Regions from separate parts of the Homo sapiens genome. Here regions 1, 2, 4 and 5 are each reported to be linked to region 3. Evidence: microRNA targets listed by miRTarBase, many of them from high-throughput screens and not tested one by one. Region 3 holds a microRNA gene; each other region holds the end of a gene's coding sequence.

What was found. The annotated mature microRNA hsa-miR-18a-3p reads ACUGCCCUAAGUGCUCCUUCUGG and lies in region 3 at 2,921-2,943, shown strand. An mRNA with a match to its seed (bases 2 to 7 or 8) in the 3' UTR can be bound and repressed. Matches are read on the target gene's strand: a 7mer-m8 pairs with bases 2 to 8, a 7mer-A1 pairs with bases 2 to 7 and ends in A, and an 8mer does both.
Region 1: miRTarBase lists IRS4 as a target of hsa-miR-18a-3p. Seed matches in the 3' UTR shown: 8mer at 1,404-1,411.
Region 2: the mRNA of FAM120A is a reported target of hsa-miR-18a-3p. The part of its 3' UTR that is shown has no 7-base or 8-base seed match.
Region 4: the mRNA of GNA13 is a reported target of hsa-miR-18a-3p. Seed matches in the 3' UTR shown: 7mer-m8 at 1,928-1,934.
Region 5: miRTarBase lists ZNF488 as a target of hsa-miR-18a-3p. Seed matches in the 3' UTR shown: 7mer-A1 at 1,471-1,477.

What each region holds. Positions count from the first base shown.
Region 1 is chrX:108,719,211-108,723,328 of GRCh38, reverse strand. It overlaps IRS4 (insulin receptor substrate 4), which reads left to right. Exons shown (of 2, transcript NM_001379150.1): 2 at 806-3,383. The coding sequence ends at 810. Among named protein-coding and RNA genes, the nearest start is that of IRS4-AS1, 15 kb to the left of the region's middle.
Region 2 is chr9:93,563,817-93,567,934 of GRCh38, forward strand. It overlaps FAM120A (family with sequence similarity 120 member A), which reads left to right. Exons shown (of 18, transcript NM_014612.5): 18 at 413-2,296. The coding sequence ends at 724. Among named protein-coding and RNA genes, the nearest start is that of PHF2, 11 kb to the right of the region's middle. RefSeq lists a silencer at 2,597-3,016.
Region 3 is chr13:91,347,877-91,351,994 of GRCh38, forward strand. It overlaps MIR18A (microRNA 18a), which reads left to right and starts at 2,875; the gene lies at 2,875-2,945. MIR17HG (miR-17-92a-1 cluster host gene) reads left to right here. Exons shown (of 3, transcript NR_197388.1): 1 at 1-83; 2 at 1,822-1,894; 3 at 2,280-4,118. MIR17 (microRNA 17) reads left to right here and starts at 2,729; the gene lies at 2,729-2,812. MIR19A (microRNA 19a) reads left to right here and starts at 3,015; the gene lies at 3,015-3,096. It also overlaps MIR20A, MIR19B1 and MIR92A1. RefSeq lists silencers at 1-259, 310-1,299 and enhancers at 849-1,396, 1,397-1,944.
Region 4 is chr17:65,011,029-65,015,146 of GRCh38, reverse strand. It overlaps GNA13 (G protein subunit alpha 13), which reads left to right. Exons shown (of 4, transcript NM_006572.6): 4 at 318-4,118. The coding sequence ends at 890. Among named protein-coding and RNA genes, the nearest start is that of GNA13, 44 kb to the left of the region's middle.
Region 5 is chr10:47,364,447-47,368,564 of GRCh38, forward strand. It overlaps ZNF488 (zinc finger protein 488), which reads right to left. Exons shown (of 2, transcript NM_153034.4): 2 at 1,050-4,118. The coding sequence ends at 3,361. Among named protein-coding and RNA genes, the nearest start is that of ZNF488, 18 kb to the right of the region's middle.

The DNA.
Region 1 (4,118 bases), not on the chromosome of region 3:
ATGTATATTTCCAGTTTAATAGACAATCTTGTACTTGAAGCCCACTCTGGGGGATGTTTTCCATGGATTCTTTTAAGATGTCTCAAATAAAATAGAATACTTGGTACTTTGTGGTGACCTGATCTTAAGGTAACACTGGCATCCCATAATCAATTTGCTGATCATTTATTCCTATCCCTTCTCTGGTCCAGCACCTTCTTCTATGTATCTGATCACCCCCTGCCACACTCCCCATTATGCACCCACTCAAAAGCAGAAAGCCAAGAGAATAATGCTGGAACTTTTTTCTTTTATTAAACAGATGGGAATTTCAAGTCTCCTTTGCAGGTATGACTTTGTTCTATTAGAAGAAATTCAATGATTGAGTCTAGAGACCATCACCAATGCTGTACTTAAATCCTATGACTTGTGCCACATAACCTGGTGAAGGCAGAGTCAAACATGTAGAAGAAGAAGAAAAAAATCTGTTTCTCTGCACAATGCCTGGCTCACTCTTGGGCTCCACTGGAAGAAAGTAGAACAGTGCACGCACGTGCAAAGATGCTGTCCACCAGAAATGTCAGTGACAGCCTGGGGGCAAGAAGAATAACTGCCCTTGTGTCTTTGCCCAGCTGATATTCCTCACAGGCAGCCAGCAGAGTTGATTAACCATGTCCATGCCCAGGCAGTCTCCTCTGTATATCTCTCAAAAACTTCTAGTTAGATTTTGTTTTGTTTTGTGTTGTTTTGTTTTAAAACAGGGTGGGGGTGACAGCTCTCCACATTAATTCTGCAAGTAACTTTTGTTTTATTATCTTTTTCCTAGAGTGATTATATTGCCACAAAAACACATTTTAGAAGAAAAGTGATGCTTATGGAATTTTATCTTCGTCTACTCCAGATCTGCCTAAAGGAAAGAAAACTCAGAGGCTTCTGAGTAGAAAGCAACCCAAATTTCTACAAGCCTACAAGTGGACTCTGGCAATTGAATGATCCTATTCATGCAGATCATTCATACTGCTGCTTATGGATCCAGTGATTTCTAATTAACAATATTTACACTGTGCTTTGTTTTTTGTTTTCTGGTTTTCCTCCCCAGTCTGTCCCTTTGAAAGGAAACAGATACTATACAAGTGAGCATCTCATAACTCTTTCCCTCTTTAAAAAAAAGTAACTTAGAATACATATAAATTTGGTCAATGCCAATTTTAATAATGTAAAATATTTAGATTCAATTTTGAAGTTGAAAAACTTTAAACCAGGGCACATAAAGAAAAAACAGCTGTCATAATTGGAAGGAAGGTATGATCTGGAATCTTTTTTCCGAGTATTACACACACAAAACATTTCTTGATCAATGAATTAAATGTCAACTGAACTGATATCTTGATGGGGCATTACCAGTATTTTAAAGGCAGGACTAAAGGGCAGATTATTTCAAGTTTTGCTCATTAGCAAAACTGCAACATTCTGCTCATGTTATATGTCAATGAAACTAATATCTTGATTGAGCATTTCCAACATTTTAAAGGCAGAACTGAGAAACAGCTATTTGTTCACATACAACACTGTGATGTTCTGCCTGAAAATCGATTGAGTATTTCCAAACCTATTATTTTTCATTTATTGTGAAACCTACATTTACCTCCTAAAAGAAACAAAGCTCTTCAAAAGTCTCTTCCCAAGGCCCCTCCCTGCTTCTCTGGGCCTCTCCCCACTTTCAACCTCTATTCTACTTTTTCTTATTCTTTCTCCATTTTCCCCAATGCACACTCTTCCTCTTATGCCCATGGCTACTATAAAGAGATCAATTTCCCATATTCAAGAAATTAGTGTTTACTTATCAATCAATATTCTGACAAAAACTTAAGCCAAAAAGAACCTCTTATAAGGCCTTGTTTCCTTCTGGATATTGAGCCAATATAAGATGTACCAAATTAAAAAAAAAAATCAGAGCAAGCTCCCCCCCGTTCTATTTTTGCTTGCCTCTGATGTAAACTGAATTAAGATTTTAGGTACCTGGACCTTTGAGAACGTGACACTAGCAAGGTGGTGACCACAGAGAATAGGTACAAAGGTCTTGAAGCTTGCTTAGAGCTTTGTTCCGTGGTGGCACACAAATCTTGGCTTGCTGTACCATCATTGGCAAACCTCATCATATCACAGTTGGGTGTGTTTGTATGTGTGTGAGCACTAGTGTGTGTGTGTACATATTCGTGTGTATGCACACTTTGTGTACCTGTGTACATGTGATTGTAGATGTACCTGTTGTGTGTAAACTCTGTTAAAATGAAATTTGCTTCGCATTTAATGTGCAACTTTGAAGTAGTGTAATATTTATCTAAAGGTTTTCACTACTTGGTTTTAATGTCTTTGAACGTGTACTTCTATCTTCAAGCAAGCTTATAGTACGTGTTGCTAAACTAACTTTTCCAAAGAACCGAGTTGACTTCTATTTTTCCTTGCCTACCAACCAAAGGGATGGTGGGCTCTTTTTTCCCTCTTGTAAATTGTGCTGAGGAGAGGACGTGGCTATGAGATCAGTCATTGTTCCAGTTACTGGTCACTGCTAGGGCATCAACTTTATCAGTTCCTTCAGACTCTTCTCTTTTTCCAACCTAATCAAATAACGCAGTGTGGCTTTTGTTCATTATAACAACGCGCTCTTTAGGCAACTTTTTTTCAAGCCTTCTGTCACCATTTTATTTTTTCAAGTAAGTTAAGTAATAATTGTTCAGAATTGTGGGAAAAAAGATTACTTGGGGGAAAATACTGTATCACTTTATTTGCATATTAGGTTCAGAAGCTGCCAGCAGACAGGGTACAGAGGGTACAGCACAGATGTAACAGTTGCTGAATAAATGAATGAGAAACCTCATACACAGTAGTACGTATTATACAAATAGTAACAGGTACACATAGTCACAGGTACTGCATAACAAATGCAATCTTGTTCTCATTATTTATTAGTTTACAGACAATTAATTTATTCAGTATTGTGCTGGAAGAATCTTTGTGGAATATGTTTACCAACTTATCACTTACCTTCCAGCTATCAGTTCATGCTGCTAAGAAAAAACAATGATGGAATATTTTTGTGTGTGTGACCTCTACATTTAATTTGATATCAGGCATAGTCACTTGGTCGTTAAAAACTGAAACTTTACAGTTCCACCAGCTAATTACATCTGCTATTTCTGCTTCACAGATATGCTTTGAGTTGCTTTGGCTTTGTCTTCCTTTGTAAATACTCTTGTACTTTCTTTTCCTTGTAAACATCTCGTTTGCAGTTTTGGGAGACGACTTTGCAACTCTGTATAGTGTTTATATATATATGTATATCTATATATATCTGACTTGCCTTTCCATACAGCTACTCACAATAAATGTGTTCATGTAAATTATTCCTGTAGAGATTCATTTTTTAATACTATTGTCTCTACTTTATTATAAATATATTTTCCTGCTTTGTAGTAGGATTGACTGCATTTTTCAGAATGAAACAAATGGGGTATTTTAGGGTTTGGGCTAAAGGTACTTTGCCTAGAAACATGAGGCTTTTCAATAGAGTCAATAAAGTCAACTCTTGATTTTTCAAATGTAGAGGTGATACTAGTGTAGAACAATTTATAAAATGACTTACCTAAAATTTCATGCAGACCTTGGATAATGAGTGAATCCTATATTGAAGCAACTACTCAAGGAGGTTGAGGTGATCATTTACTTTTTTTTTTTCTGTCTCCTTCCCTTGACACTTAATCTTGCTCTTTAAATTACTCTTTTTTTTTTTTTTTGTTTTTTTTGAGACGGAGTTTCACTCTTGTTGCCTAGGCTGGAGTGCAATGGTGCGATCTCGGCTCACCGCAACCTCCGCCTCCCAGGTTCAAGCGATTCTCCTGCCTCAGCCTCTCAAGTAGCTGGGATTACAGGCATGAGCCACCACGTCCAGCTAATTTTGTGTTTTTAGTAAAGACGGGGTTTCTCCATGTTGGCCAGGCCGGTCTCAAACTCCTGACCTCAGGTGATCCACCCGCCTCAGCCTCCCAAAGTGCTGGGATTACAGGCATGAGCCACCGTGCCCGGCCTAAATGACTCCCTTTTCATTTTCTTATTTTTAACCACTAGGAAGGCAACTGTGA
Region 2 (4,118 bases), not on the chromosome of region 3:
AGAAATGGGGTGTGTGTGCTGCTGCACATCACAGGCAGATGTGGGAGACCCTGTTTGTTTTGTGGCAGTGGGAACAGTCGCAATTTTAGAGAGGACTTATTGAGGGGCATTTGTTACTTTAAACAATTTAGTGCCATACAAAGGATTAGACAGAGCTCCTGAAGGGGGAATCTCCCTCATTTTCAGGGTGTTAACTACAGAGGAGTTGAGGGAAGGGGCCATGGAGGGAACTGACTGAGACAGGTAGAGCATCTACCGCCCAAAAGTCAAAGCAAAGACAGGGTTAGAAGGACCCAGCTGGGCATTTTCTGCTCTTGAATCTGCAGAGAGTGTCATTAGGCCAAAATTGGCATCCTCTCTCTTCTGTTTATCAGAAACCACCTTCTCATTTGTTGTCCTTCATTTTAAACAGGGCAGACCTCCTTATGCTGCTTCAGCAGAAGAAGTGGCCAAAGAACTTAAGTCAAAATCTGGGGAATCGAAGTCCTCTGCTATGTCTTCAGACGGGTCCCTGGCTGAAAACGGAGTGATGGCCGAGGAGAAGCCGGCTCCCCAGATGAACGGGAGCACGGGTGACGCCAGGGCCCCCAGCCACTCTGAAAGTGCCTTGAATAATGACTCTAAAACGTGCAATACAAATCCTCATTTAAATGCACTAAGTACAGACAGCGCTTGCCGCAGAGAAGCTGCTCTGGAGGCAGCTGTCTTAAATAAAGAAGAGTAAACTTATTTTTTATAGAGGGTGAAGGATGCTGGAAGGGTAAGGATTTAGGAATATCTGGAGAGAAAGAGAGCCTGCAGTTATGTACATTTTGTCCTTTCCGTAAGAGAAAAATGAGGACTTTGGAAATTCAGATCCCTCTTTGATATCAGAGATTTAAACAACACATTTTTAGTTTTAACCAGTTGTAGTCAAAATGCTACAATAAAACAAAAAAGAGAAAGAAAATGAAGAGCATTTGACTCCCGCACTTAAAATGAAGTACACATAAAGTTTAAACTGGTTATGACAAAAGCCTTTAGTTGTGTTTCTTGAACTATAAAGAAAACAAATTTTGGCAGTCTTTAAGTATATATAGCTTAAAATATAATTTTTAGCATTTGGCACCATATGTATGCCATTATATTTGATTTTGCATTACTGTTTCACAATGAAGCTTTCTTTAAGGCTTTGATTTTTATGATTATGAAAGAAATAAGGCACAACCACAGTTTTTCTTTCTTAAATTTCATCACTGTTGATGTGGTTCTTTTGTGTTAAAAAAAAAAAGTGCAACTATCAAAACTAAAAAATTATAGAGTAATATTGCCGTTCTGCTGATTTTAAATATACAATACATCATACATACTTTACAAGCAAGTTAAATGGAGATAAAGTTGAAATCATAGAAGATGCAAATGACCTTTCAAAATCAACACAATGTGTTCTGAAACTTTCGTGACTAATACCATGCATCTGTGATCAATGAACTATGTGGTTTTGAATCGGATGTAGACCATTAGTACTACTACTTGAGCTAAACTTCTGCATGGTTCATAATTTTTAAAGTGTGTAGTTAATATGCATGTTATCGTCCTTTCTTCCATTCTTAACAGTATGTGCCCATTTGCAAAACAAAAATGCTAATAATCAGTAATAGTCCTATAAAAGATGTTAACTCTGTTTAGTCATTGACTGATCTTGCTCTAACCTTAAAATTTTGTGATTATTGACCTCTGTTGCATTTATTCTAAAGCCCCCCAAAAATTATCTAGCCGTTTCGAATATCAACATTACCCTGGTGTATTCACTGCTGTATGCATTATTGTTCTTTGTTGCTGTTTTATGCCTTCATATTAGCAAATATGAAATTCTGTGAAAAAAAACCCTTTGATCTTAAAAAAAAAAAAACCACCCCCCCCTTCTGTAGCAGGAAACAAATTGCTTGTTCTTGAGAACTTTCCCATCAAGAATTTAGTAGAAGCAGGTATACTTCTATCATTTTGATGTTTTTGTTAATGTTTCCAAACAATGTACTTTGAAATCAGAATCACTTCTTATCGTTTTCATATACTTCTGATGCTCTTCATCACATTAGTGATCAGAAATGAGGTGTAATTCCCCAACCCCTGCCCGCAAGAGCTAAGTAGGATCTTACTGTAAGTTGAAGGGAGTTTTGCCCTAACTCATGGATTGTGCAAGAATGAACTGCTGTTGGGTTTGATTGACTGTCGATGGATTGTGGTGTGGTGTATCTGAAGGCTATTGAATGCAACTTACAATGCTTAATAAAAATCTTTATTCTTTTAGTATAAAGTATGGCGTGGCTTTTAAATTCACTTGTAAAAGCTAATTTTATAGAGGTTTAATTCAAATCGAAACAACTACTGAAAAGATCAGAAAACCAAAGTTGAAAAATATTTTACCTTTTCAAAGTAATTCCAGGTTTCCGGCTTAGAGGGACATTAATATATGATTAATTTGTTTGATAGCTCAGTTTCAAGCAACCAAGGGGATAAAAAAATTCTGTTTGATAAAGCAGACTTACAGAAGAGGTTTTTTTAAGCCCTGAGGAAGCAATAAATTTGACTCCACCACGTTTTAAAAGCTGGATGTTACAAGTATAGTCCGTTTTTCATGCCATCCTTTTGACTGAAGGCTCTTCTCTGCAGCCTGATATGAGGTCCCCGTACCCAGGTCCGCCGAGCGCCTGGAGAAAGCGCCCCGTGCTGCCCTCTAGCGGGGGATGGTGGGCTAACGGCGCCGGAGGCGGCCAGGAGAGCTGCGGCGATCCCGCTCCAGGGAGGGGCTGGCGCTCGCCCGGGGGCGCGTTTCCTTCCTGTGGAAGGGCGGGGCGGGGCCTTGCGTGGCGCTTCCCCGTCCGCCACCGCGCAGGTCCCGGTGCGCGCGCAGCCCGCGAGGCGGGGCCGTGTCAGTGAGGCCTACTCCCAGCTTTTTCCTCCCGGAGGCTGAGACTGCGCCGTTGAAGCCGGTTCTCTGTGCGGGGCCGGCGCCGGGCCCAGCAAAGACCCGAGTGCCCCGAGAGAGACCGAGCAGACCCTGGGAGCCCGAGTCCCAGCAAGGCCCGAGCCGAGCCAGTTTCTCCAACTAGCAGCCTGAGAGCGCTCTTGGTCCTGGCTGTTCAGACCCCAGACGAATTTACCCCTTCTTTTTATGGGGTGGGCCTTCAGAGTTTGAAGGAAGTGAAGCTAGCCTCGCTCACTCCAGGGCCTCTTCCCACCCTGACTCGCCGGTTCCTGACGGTGGCCCGCTGTTCCGGGGCCACGGCTGAGTCCCTCTGCGCCAGCCTCCCGGTGGCGGGCCAGCCAGCCCCTTCTCTGTGCTGTGAGAAGATGGGGGCGCCCGGACGCTCCATCTTTCAAAAACACCATTCCACTGAGGACCCTGCCTGTGACGGGAACCAGTCTAACCCACTCTGGATCGCACGTGCCTGGCAGAGGGACAGCGTTGTGGAGGAACACTTTCCAGGCCCACCAGCTTCCACCATCCATTGCTAGGCAGTACCTCTCCCACCGTGACAACCACGCGCTTTTCTTCCCTCTCTCAAGGGGCAGGCCCACGCCACTTGAGAATAGCAAACTGACAGGGAGAGCCCTCTGGCTTTAAGAGGGGAGAGGGACAGGTTTCTGAACAGTACAGTCTCAGCAGCAGGAGCGCGCGCATGTCAAGGGTCCCTCTCTGCTCCCTGACAAGCAGGTGCTCCTTCTTTCCGGTGGTTCTCATCTCTTAGTTGCAATTGCTGTAGGTGAGAGAGCAGCACAGCTTGCTTTAGGTCACTCTCAGCAGGGACTGGGCTGGAACCCAACCCTTAGCTCCAAGTTGGGTCTGTCCACCCGCTCCTGAAGCTCCAGTAGGTGCAGGCGTGGGCATTAAGGAGAGAGGAAGGGAGAGGGTGCTGGGGCTCCGGCGACCCTGTGGCTGGAACAAGGAGGCCAAGGACATCCCTCCTTGCTGGAGCCATGCTGGCCACTCCTTCCACACCACCAGAATTGCAGAGGAAGGCCCAAGGGCGATGCTGTCATGGGCCCAGGGGTCAGTGGCTGTGGGTGGCACTGGTGCGGGCTGGACTGAATGGTGATGCTGGTGTTTCTCCTTCCTGGCAGCATGATATCCTGGG
Region 3 (4,118 bases):
CGTAGTAAAGCGCAGGCGGGCGGGGAGGCGGGAGCAGGAGCCCGCGGCCGGCCAGCCGAAGATGGTGGCGGCTACTCCTCCTGGTGAGTCTGCCCGCCCCTCCGGCGACGGAGGGAAACCTGTTGTGTGCGGCCCGGGTCTGGCGGGCGGGGCGGAGCGGCCCGGGGCGGACTGGCCCGGGGCAGCGTGGCGGCGGCGGCGTGGCCGGGGCGGGTCTCGGCCGTTGGCCGCCCCGGCGTGTGGCAGCCGCATCTGGCTGCCCCCTCGCTCGCCCGCGGGCCGGCGGAGGGGGGCAGGGCCGGGGCGGGAGGGTGGGAGGGGGCGGCGTGCGCGTGGCGGCCGCGCCCGGGACCCGCGCAGACCCTGCCTGGGCCGACCCGAAGGCGGGTGGGCGGACGGCGAACACAATGGCCCCTCGGGGAGAGGACGTGCGAGGCCCGTGCCTTCTCCGGGGCCCGGGGCGCGCGCGGGGCGTGGGGTCTCTGGGTAGGAAAGTTTCTCCCGAGGGCGAGAGTTAAAGCGCCTCCAGAACAAAGCGGCGGCGGCGGCGGCACATGGGGCAGGCCGCGGGCCGGGAGGGGGCGCGCCCACGAGGTACCTGCGCGCCAGCGGGCGGCGTGGCGTGGGCGGGAGCCCGCGGTTCCCCAAACTTTGTACGCGCGAGGGTGGGCGGAGGGGCGCCGAGATCGGCGCGGCCTGGGCGCCACCCCCGCTCCGCGTGGGCTTTGTTAGCCCGCGTGGGCAGCCTCGGGGCGGGGCCCGCAACTTCCCCGCCGTGGCCCTCGGAGGAGGCCGCAGTCGGCCTCAGCCGCGGCGTGGAGCCGCCTGCGCCCGGCCGCTTGCTGGGAGTGTGGCGCGGGAGGGCCAGCCCGGCTCGGCGGGAGCGGCGTCCCCGCCGCCATGTTCCTGCGGGGCGGGCTGCACGGGGGTGAGGGCGGGGGACATGGCGGCGACTGCGCGCCGCCGCCGATTGTTCCCGGCTTAGGCCTCGGGCCGCGTGCGACGGGCACCGCGGCCGCGGAGCCCCCGCCCCTCTGGGCCGGGCTCGGGGGGGCTGGGGGACACAAAGGAGGGGCGGCGCGCCCGCGTCCCCGCCGCACTCGGGCCTCGGCGCCGCCGGTCGCCGCGCGGCTGCCGCCGGGAAACGGGTTGGGGGGGTTGCCGCGTCCGGCGGGGCCTGACTCTGACCCGCCGCCCCCTGGCGGCTACGCGGAGAATCGCAGGGCCGCGCTCCCCCTTGTGCGACATGTGCTGCCGGCCCGGGCTCCATGAGCGTGGCGGGCACTTTGCAGTCTCGGGTGTTCCTGCCCGGTCTTCTGTTCCTAAACTGCAGCAAAGGGAAAAGGAACTGAAAAAGGCAGGCTCGTCGTTGCAATATCACCAAAAGAGAAAATTAACGGCATGCCATCAGGACCACAGCAGTTGGAGAAACAACTCTTTATCCCGGCTTGCAGCCACGAGGTCTTGATTGGGGGAGGGGTGGTGAAGAATAGTCTGTGGGCTGCTTTTTTTTTTTCCTTTTACTGGAGCTGTACAGTGGAGTCGGTGATTGCTGCTGATCATAATCAAGTATTTTAGGAGCTTATTTAGACATGTATCTGATAGCTAAGGATTTTTCAACTTTATTCTCTTACGTATTTTTCAACTGTAAATTATTGGGCTTTTAAATCCTGCTAGTATTGCTCGACTCTTACTCTCACAAATGGATGGAATTAATTGCTGTTAGGAGGTTGGAAAATAGCAAATATAGATTTGGACGGTGGTAGTAATTTTGAGCAAATAATGTTTTATCTTTTTTTTCCTTATTTTTCCCTATTCCAGTCATACACGTGGACCTAACTGCACCAGTAGCTTTTCTGAGAATACTTGCTGAAAAGGAAGTTTTCTGGAATGGGTAAGTGTATTCTGATTTTCTTGAACTTTTCTTAAAAACAAATTTTTCTTGCTATTAAAGTTGAATAAATAGGATTGGTTTCTTAGAGAGTAAAAGTAGGTGTTTCTTTCTTTAGACAATGTACCTTTTCTGAAAAACTAACTCATTAAGTACGGATTTGCTAATTTTAAGGTAGTAAAATTACAGTGTAAATATTCCTGTACATTTTTGGAAACTGGCTTATGCAGTTTACGAAATATAATTTTAGACCCTCTTTTAAGTTGGGTGATAAAGTAGATATAACCTGAGATGATAGATTTAAACAGGATATTTACGTTCTGCTACAATTGACTGATAACACTTGAAGTGTAGTCTGAACAGTAATTTTGTTAATCATTTCAACAAGTATTTGCTAAGTGGAAGCCAGAAGAGGAGGAAAATGTTTTGCCACGTGGATGTGAAGATTTCCTCTAAAAGGTACACATGGACTAAATTGCCTTTAAATGTTCCAAAATTAGTTCTCATTTATTTGCAGTCTCATTTTGTTTTGTTTTTTTTCTCTATGTGTCAATCCATTTGGGAGAGGCCAGCCATTGGAAGAGCCACCACTTCCAGTGCTAGTTGGATGGTTGGTTATGATTGCCTTCTGTAAAGAATTCTTAAGGCATAAATACGTGTCTAAATGGACCTCATATCTTTGAGATAATTAAACTAATTTTTTCTTCCCCATTAGGGATTATGCTGAATTTGTATGGTTTATAGTTGTTAGAGTTTGAGGTGTTAATTCTAATTATCTATTTCAAATTTAGCAGGAAAAAAGAGAACATCACCTTGTAAAACTGAAGATTGTGACCAGTCAGAATAATGTCAAAGTGCTTACAGTGCAGGTAGTGATATGTGCATCTACTGCAGTGAAGGCACTTGTAGCATTATGGTGACAGCTGCCTCGGGAAGCCAAGTTGGGCTTTAAAGTGCAGGGCCTGCTGATGTTGAGTGCTTTTTGTTCTAAGGTGCATCTAGTGCAGATAGTGAAGTAGATTAGCATCTACTGCCCTAAGTGCTCCTTCTGGCATAAGAAGTTATGTATTCATCCAATAATTCAAGCCAAGCAAGTATATAGGTGTTTTAATAGTTTTTGTTTGCAGTCCTCTGTTAGTTTTGCATAGTTGCACTACAAGAAGAATGTAGTTGTGCAAATCTATGCAAAACTGATGGTGGCCTGCTATTTCCTTCAAATGAATGATTTTTACTAATTTTGTGTACTTTTATTGTGTCGATGTAGAATCTGCCTGGTCTATCTGATGTGACAGCTTCTGTAGCACTAAAGTGCTTATAGTGCAGGTAGTGTTTAGTTATCTACTGCATTATGAGCACTTAAAGTACTGCTAGCTGTAGAACTCCAGCTTCGGCCTGTCGCCCAATCAAACTGTCCTGTTACTGAACACTGTTCTATGGTTAGTTTTGCAGGTTTGCATCCAGCTGTGTGATATTCTGCTGTGCAAATCCATGCAAAACTGACTGTGGTAGTGAAAAGTCTGTAGAAAAGTAAGGGAAACTCAAACCCCTTTCTACACAGGTTGGGATCGGTTGCAATGCTGTGTTTCTGTATGGTATTGCACTTGTCCCGGCCTGTTGAGTTTGGTGGGGATTGTGACCAGAAGATTTTGAAAATTAAATATTACTGAAGATTTCGACTTCCACTGTTAAATGTACAAGATACATGAAATATTAAAGAAAATGTGTAACTTTTTGTGTAAATACATCTTGTCTTGTTTTCATTCAAAAACATTTCACTTTTGGGGTTGCGTGTCAGATTTGGCAGTATAAATTCTGGCTATATTTTTTGTTGTTAGATTTATTTGGCTGTTAAGTATTGCGATATGACTAAACATACTGTATACCTGATGATCATCTGTAAAGTTAGAGTATATCTTTTTGCTTTCTTTGGAGTTAGTGTTATTCCAGGATATTTTACTTAATCTAAAAGTTAATTTATGTTGCTCATATATTACTCAAGTATTTAAATTTAGAGAGAATGCCGCTCTGTTTAAAGCAATGTGTAAAGATGAGTTTTTTTAAGCATGGAATTTAGGGTTGGGGTACAATTTGTTTCTATTAAGCAAGTACCAGTTTACCAATACATGAGTAACTGAAGTGTAACTGTTAAATGCTTGTATACTAGTTTTTCTTTCTGATTGTCAGTGATTTATAAGCTATAAATGACCAAGGTCCTCAGACTGCTTTT
Region 4 (4,118 bases), not on the chromosome of region 3:
TCCTGCTAACATTTTAATGTATCTTGGCTTTTGTTGTGGGGAGCACAAGTGGGTCTTGCTATATTGCCCAGGATATTCTCAAACTCCTGGCTTCGCAAGCGATCCTCCTGCCTCAGCCTCCCAAAGTGCTGGGATTATAGGCATGACCCACCATGTCTGACCAGTCTTGGCATTTTATAATAAGCATAATCTATCTGAAAATGTCACTTAAAAGATCATTTTGTTTGCATATCTATTCACTAGTCCAGTTAGTAGTCCATTAAAAATTCGCATTACTTCGGGATTAATAGGTATAAAACAAGTTTTTTCTTTTCCAGGATTATATTCCATCACAACAAGATATTCTGCTTGCCAGAAGACCCACCAAAGGCATCCATGAATACGACTTTGAAATAAAAAATGTTCCTTTCAAAATGGTTGATGTAGGTGGTCAGAGATCAGAAAGGAAACGTTGGTTTGAATGTTTCGACAGTGTGACATCAATACTTTTCCTTGTTTCCTCAAGTGAATTTGACCAGGTGCTTATGGAAGATCGACTGACCAATCGCCTTACAGAGTCTCTGAACATTTTTGAAACAATCGTCAATAACCGGGTTTTCAGCAATGTCTCCATAATTCTGTTCTTAAACAAGACAGACTTGCTTGAGGAGAAGGTGCAAATTGTGAGCATCAAAGACTATTTCCTAGAATTTGAAGGGGATCCCCACTGCTTAAGAGACGTCCAAAAATTCCTGGTGGAATGTTTCCGGAACAAACGCCGGGACCAGCAACAGAAGCCCTTATACCACCACTTCACCACTGCTATCAACACGGAGAACATCCGCCTTGTTTTCCGTGACGTGAAGGATACTATTCTGCATGACAACCTCAAGCAGCTTATGCTACAGTGATGTACAAAAGACTTGCTGTTTTAATATCTTTTTGTGTTTTTGATGTTTTCTGTTTGTTTTGTTTTTTAAAATAGCAGTTTACAACCAGAATTAGAACAATCTTAATTCTACGTTTAACTTCTTGAAAATCTTAGTACTTTTTCTGCGGCCTTTGGTTTGTGGCTGAAAGCTGTTGAGTGACTCATCGCCAAGATTTGCTGTAATGCAGGCTTTGATCTGTTTCACCATGGCTTCTATTCAAGTCCAGTTAAAACCTCCCAGCTGACCTCAGACTAGGCATATTTCAGGCTTTAAATTATTCTACTTTCCAAACTGAATTCTCCTGCAGTGCCAAGTATCAAAGGTGTCCTTAAATACTTGTAGGGATGAGGTTAGGAATATTCAGTTCCAAAACAAGATATCTTCTGTCCGCCTTACATATAGCAGTGACACTTGTTGCCTAACTTTATGGTGACCTCCTATTTTGTAAGGGCTGTTAGAAGTTCTATCTAAGAAATGGCATTCTGTAGGTTTATAGAAGGTTTAGCCTTCATATTTTAATTGCTTGTATACACAACAGCTGTTTTGCTTTTAGATTTCTGTGTTTCTGAAGGTAATGTTCTTCCTGTTTTCAAGTTTACATAAGGATCTTTGGTCTGATGCTGATGAAGAGTTCACAGGTGGTATGGGAGAGCAAAAGGCAAGCTAATGCTGTTTACCGTGTTTTGGTCAAACGTAACGAGTGAAATAGAATTTGCCTTTCTCATATTTAATTATCATGTAGTTTAATGTACCATATGTGAAACATTCTGGCCATAGCAGCAACTAAAAACTGCAAGCAACTTGGTAACAGAACTTTCTAAATAAACTTAACCTGTTCCAGAATGTCATGTATTTGACTTTTAAGCCCTATCTCAGTTGGTCAGTAAAGACCAATCCTTACTGTAGGAAATCATTGTTGTATCATCACAAACATCTATCTTTTGCTGTCCTGTCCAGTCCCATCAACTCCACACTGTGCCATTTGTGGCATCGTTTTGTTTATTTGGAGTTTGCTAAGGGCAGTATTTTTCTGTCAAGACTATTCAAGAAGGCATTATTTGAGATTCCTGTTCATTCTTGGTGTGTCTCTAACAGATACAGTATGTATACATTTGTATAATTGTTGTTGTTGAAAGTCCAGCTTTTTTGAGGTATATTTTAAATGTTTTAAGGATGCTTCTAAGGATCAGTAGTAATTTTTTTAGTTCGCACCTAAAGATGATTACATTGACCTCCCCCGACTGCTTACCAAATTAAAATGTGTCCACGAAGTAGCTTTGTGATCGCAGATACATTCATAGTGAACTCATCAGAATGGCTGGTTTGCAGTACTGAAATACTATCTTCTAGGCTGTATGTAGTGCTACAATTAGAGAAACAGAAGTCCAAGGCTGGCGACAGCTTGAAAAGTCTGACAGCTTTTCTACTTTTCCTGAAAATTTTAAGACTGTGATATCTGTCATTTTACTGTATAGCTGACTGTGTACTCAGGTATTTTATTGGTCCTTGAAAGATTGGTCGTTATGGATCACCCAGCCTTTCCAAGTCAGTGGCTGTTGTTCTGTCTTGCTGTCTGATACGAGAGTGGGGCTTTTCAGTGAACTAACCAGGGATTGTTCTTGACATACCTGACTTTTCTCACATTTGAACTTCCACTATCATTGTATCCATATAACTTCTAGCATTTTCATGCCATGGTAATCCATGAGCTACACATACGTAGCCCGGCACCGTGATGCAAGTTCATGGTATCGTGCATGTTCGTGGTATCATGGTATCATTCATGCGTGTTTGAATAGTTCTACATCTAGTGCTTCTTGCCAAAAAGAATACATTGTTTAAATTCACAAAATTAGCATAATTGCAGTGCTAATGAATATCGGAATATGTGCACAGTAACATTTGGACTATTCATTGGAGAGTTTACCCATACATTTAGCAAATTGAATGGCCAAAACATTTGACTCCAGTGAGGGCTCAAGTTAGATCCCTATAGAAAGAGGACACTTCATCTTACTTAAGTCATAGTTAAGATCTGTGATACGAACCATAGATATTGCCTGACAAAGCAGAAATCACCAAGTTTCCCCCTTTTGAATTACCACCAAGAAGTGTTGAAACACCAAATAGATATCATGTTATTTTGGGCATTTGCAGTTTTCTTCCCTGCTGCATGTAATGTCTCAGAATCAACATTCTTTTAAAATCTAGACTATATTTTGAGGCAATGAATTACTTATATTCAACTTAGGCTTGTTTTGACATTCAGTAGAACTTTAAGTTCAATCTAAAGGCTTCAGTCCACATTTTTTTATACGTTGTATTTTAAAAACGTTTGAAAGGAGTCTTACACCTGTATCATGAAAACTGAATCCTTTTGAAATACCACTATATGAAGAGAGAGATGAAATTTAGTGAACAGAATTGAAAAGGTGCTCATAATTTCACTATGCAAACTTACCCCAGTCTCTAAAAAAGTAATTTAGATTTAAAGTTCTTTGATGTATTTGATTTTCTAAATCTTTATGGTTATGATTTGGAATAAAATGTGCCTAATCCTGTGTTACATTCTGTTCTTAAATCTGAATGCCTTCTCATTTAATTCTGAGGAAATATCACACAAGTGTCTTCATTGACCTTGAAGAAATGTATATACAGTTGCCTTATAAAACAACATAAATTTAGACCATAACTTTTATAGAGAAAGGGTTTTGTCAAATGTTTTCTGAAAATCTGAGTAATTCAAAGCATGCCTCTGCCCCTTTAATATTTTTAATAACCTGCATTGTTGCTGTCTGCCAAATATTAAATTGAAATCTTCATTTCAATTTTATTATCTGGAAAGGGCACTGGATTGCTCTGCAACCAAAGAAAGCAATATGGAATGAAAAAACTCATTCACTTTTGTCTTATTTTCTTTTAAGGTGTATTGGCATGTAATTTGCATAGAGAAGGTCCTCTGGTTAGTCTCTCAAATTGAGGCTGTTTAGGGAAATCCTTATTCAGTTGGTGGCAGTGGTTGGTTTAAAGTAGAAGGAAATAAGATCGCCTTAATACCAGAAATGATTAGAAGTGCTGATTTAGATTCAACAAATACCATATGTCCTTATCATTTTTTGTAAGAAGAAATTGGTTAAGTCCTAACTTTCAATGTGTACCCAAATACTTGTATTTATGCTTTTGATAAAATGTATTTTCAGCATTAAT
Region 5 (4,118 bases), not on the chromosome of region 3:
TGAAAGTGCTGGAGAAGGACGATAGGAAAGTGTGTGTGTTTACGAGTAGCAGGTGTGAATTGAAATTTGAGACAGGGAGCCTACACCTGCTGCTGTCCCAGTTCCTGAATCATCCAACCACACTGGGCTGGGCAGACAAGTGGCAGGCTAAAAAGGACATGAGCTCAATCTGGGGTCCTGGAGTCTTATTCTTGCACTGATGCTCCTGAGCCCATGGTCTTAGGAAAGTTCTTGACCTCTTGGAGTTTAATGTCATCTGCAGCAGAGTGGGAATTATTAATAACAATCTGCCTCCTGGCTGCTGCGTGTCAAGTGCATAGTGTGGGGCCTCATGCCGAGACCTTGAGTTGCCCTTTCCTGCCTCACCTGAGACAGCACACGGGGAGGCTCCCATAGCTTCAGCTGCCTTCTGTGCTCAGCCTCTCCATGTGTAAATGACACCCCCACACAGCACCTAAAGGGGCCAGCAAGGCTGAGCTTTCCTTGTCTTGTCTTAGTGAGCAAGGGACCTCCCAGTGTCCCTTTGGGAATGATGATGCTTTATTGGCACCTGCAGGGAGCACCCTTCCCTCTTCTAGATGTGGAAGACAATGAGCTCAGGGGGTCCAGGCCCCCTCCTCCAGGCCACGCTCCCCACTGCAGCTGGAGAGTACCCCCAAAGTGCCTCTCCGAGCCAAGCCCTCAGTCCCCTCGGTCCAAACCGCTCTCCCGTGAGGCCCTCCTACCCCTGCCCCTCCATCTCCTCCTCACACCCTGACACAATTGCAGACTCTGGACTGATCTTTCTCCTCAGCCACTGCTCCCCTGCCTGCATCACCAAATCACCGGCACATACTTGCCTTTGAGGCTCAGCTCAAAGTGCCCAGGGATGCTGAATAAATGAATGGAAATGGACCCACTCACTCAATCCCTTGCCTGGCCAGGGAGACAGCGTAGGTGAAGGAAGCTCAGTACACATGGAGCCTTCCAGCTGCATGGCAGCCTCCTGCAACCCTCCACAGCCAAAGGAAGATTGCACACATATTCAGACCCAGCTTCTCACACAGAAATTATTTCCACAATATTTATTATGCACCAACAATATGCCATGCCCTGTTCTGGGCACCAGGGATGCACAGTAAACAAACCAATCTCTGTTCCCAAGGAGCTGACAGTGTGGAGGCAGCAAATCAACAAGACGACAAACAGAAAGATGGTTGCAGATGGTGAGACATGCTGTGAAGGAAGCAACAGGGTGATGCGGCTGAGAGAGGCAGAGGCTGCAGGGCTGCTTTACGGGGAATCTGGGAGACCTCTCTAAGGAGCTGACCTGCGAGAAGAAGCCCTGTGGAACCATAGCAGGAGCAGCACCATGAAGAGCTAGATAGAAAATGTTGAATGAAGCCCAGGCTTGAGAAACGGCACCAGAGCTGTGGTCAGAACACGGGAGCAGACAGTGGAACAGCAGCGAGGTGGTATAGCGGGGTCCCCTCTGCCCACTGCCACCTGTGGGCCTCATAAGGGCAAGCTCGGCCCATGAAGGTAGCAGGTATAGCTTCAGGGAAGTGTCAGAAACACTGGAAGTGTTATAGCATCATCTGCAATTGACTCATTGTAGAAATGGAAAGGAAACAGCTCTTGCCTTCCAGGGCTATTGTAGGACTCACTATAACATCTGTATTCTTCCAGTGCTTATGCTATTGCCTGGCACACAGGGAGAGTGAAATGAGTGCTTGCAATTAACATGAGGCAGGGACTTGTTCATGAAGCAGCTGGCAGGTCCTGCTGGGGTTAGGCCTGTAAGTGTGAAGGGCAGCCACAGGGTTGGAGGCATCATCTGAGTTACACTTTCAGAAGATTATCTGGTTGTGTGTGTGTGGACAATGGATGCGTGCATGGTGAGAGGCAGGAATGGAGGGAGCGAGGACATCAGAGCAGCCAGGTGGGAGTGCTGCTGCCTGGAACGGTGGACAGAGGAGAGCAATAGAAGAGGTGCAGTCTGGGAGGCTGGCTGAGATCCCCACCTGCTCAGCTGGGCTTATTCCCAGCCACAAGCCTGAGATCTGTGCTGGGGACTCATTGGAGGGCTGGAAACTGCATATCAAAAGAACAATATCTGACAGTGAGGTGGAAACCAGTGCAAAAACGACACTGGCTTGGAAACTCCCCACAAAGGGCTTTCACGCAGACTGACCTGTGGAATGTCAAAGAGTACAGCCTGGGCTCCACACATCCTTAGGAACAAGGGCTGATGCGGGTACCTACAACAGCTACTGACCGAAACGCAGTAGATAATAAATGGTACCTAGAATGCTCCCCAGCCTCACGATCTGGAAGCCTAGTTTTTGCACATGTCCTATTCTTGGAAGGTAAAACAGCATGTGTGTAGGTGGTGGGGAGGGGGTTCTATTTCCCCGTATTCATATACTCACAATGTGAAGAACTATGGACCAGGTATTGGCTGGAATTACCTGTCCCAATTCCTCACCCTCCTGTGGAGGGGATGGATGGTCACTCCCTTGTCACAGCTTCACCAAGGGCAGCCTACACTTTTCCACTCCTTAATATTGGGCCTGGTCCTGCCACTTGTATGGGCTGAGAGGACATTGGCAATGTGACCCAAGCAGAGGCTTGAGGTGTGCTTGTTAGACTCACCCTCCTGTGTTCTTGGCATGACCACGAGAGAAGCGTGCTCGCTCTGGGTAGCCCACCAGCCGAAGAAGAAAACGAATATGACTTGATCAAATCTGAGACTTGCTGCCAAGCCCAGCCAAGCTCAGCTTAACCTGAGCCAACCCACAGACTCACGACTTAGGCAGATGCTTTAGCTTGTCTGCCATGGAGATCTTGTTAATAACAATAGCTAACTAGTACAGACATCATCACAAACCTTGTTGACTCAGTGCTCAGGGTCTGCAGGCAGAATGCTGGCCACTTTCCACACACCTTTCATGTGACCTGAATGCCAACCTAAGACACAGTGTTATCATCTCCATTTCACAGATGAGAAAATGGGGACTCAGCAGGTTAAAGCTCTTTGTCCAGGGTCACAGCTAGTATGTGAAAGAGCCCAGATTCGAATCCAGGCTTGTGTGCCTCCAAAGCCCATGATGTGTGCCAGGAGTTGCCCCTGCTCTCTGTGCCTGTTAGGGCCTCTACCCTGGATTTGCAAAGCCCATCACTTTATTTCAGGACTTCATTTCCTTCAAAACACATCATGCAGGTGTGGCTTTTTCAAATTATGCCTGAGCTGTTTATCTATGAATGCCAAAAGCAGCAGCTCTGCAAAGGACCATGACAGCCCCCTCAACGCAGGCCCAGGGAGCCCCCCTCTGCCAAAGGCTGGCTGCTGCACCCAGCAGGTCATTCTGCGGTCACCTGCTAGCTGTGAGAAGTCATGTGCCGGGAGAGGTGGTGGCGCTCCCGGAAGTGCTCCTGGCACACAGGGCAGGCAAGGGCCTCTTCTCTCCGCTTCTGAGAATGTGGGTCAGGCCCCGCATGCTCCTTTTTGTGGTGGGATCGCATGTGAAAGACCAGGTCGGACGTTAGGCGAAAGGACAGGTTGCACTTTGCACACCAGTTCTGGGTGGACAAGCCCAGGGAGGTGAGGGTGGGTGGCAGGAGGGCCCACGAAGTGGTGGAGGATGATGAGGGTGGGGGCACCTGGGCCTGGGTATGCTCCAGCCACAGTGTAGGGGCACCCAGAAAAGTGCTACAGAGTGGAGCATTCTGTGGCAATGCTTGCAAGTTCCACAAATCACCAACCAAAAGCTTGGGAGTTGAAAGTCGACCCCAACAAGCGAGGTCTGTAGTGTTGAGGAGTCCAGACAGCTCCCCCAGGGCATCTGCAGATTCCCCTGCAGGGAAGACTGAGGTTAGCTCAGGCCTCTCTGCTGGTCGCTTGGTTGGTTTGCTAAAGGCGCTTCTTTGCTCACTTCGTGCTCCGCTGGGCCACACAGAGAAGACTTTGCTGCCAGCTGGGCCTCTGGGGATGTTCTGGGTCAGCTGTGGGGCACCAGGTTGGCCTGTGGGGTCATCGTGCTCCCTCTCCTGGGCCTGAGCATCCACCTGCCGGTCCTTCATCCTCGGCAGCTCCGTGAAGGCGCTCTGCCTCTGCTCTCCACGTGTCTTCGGGGGCA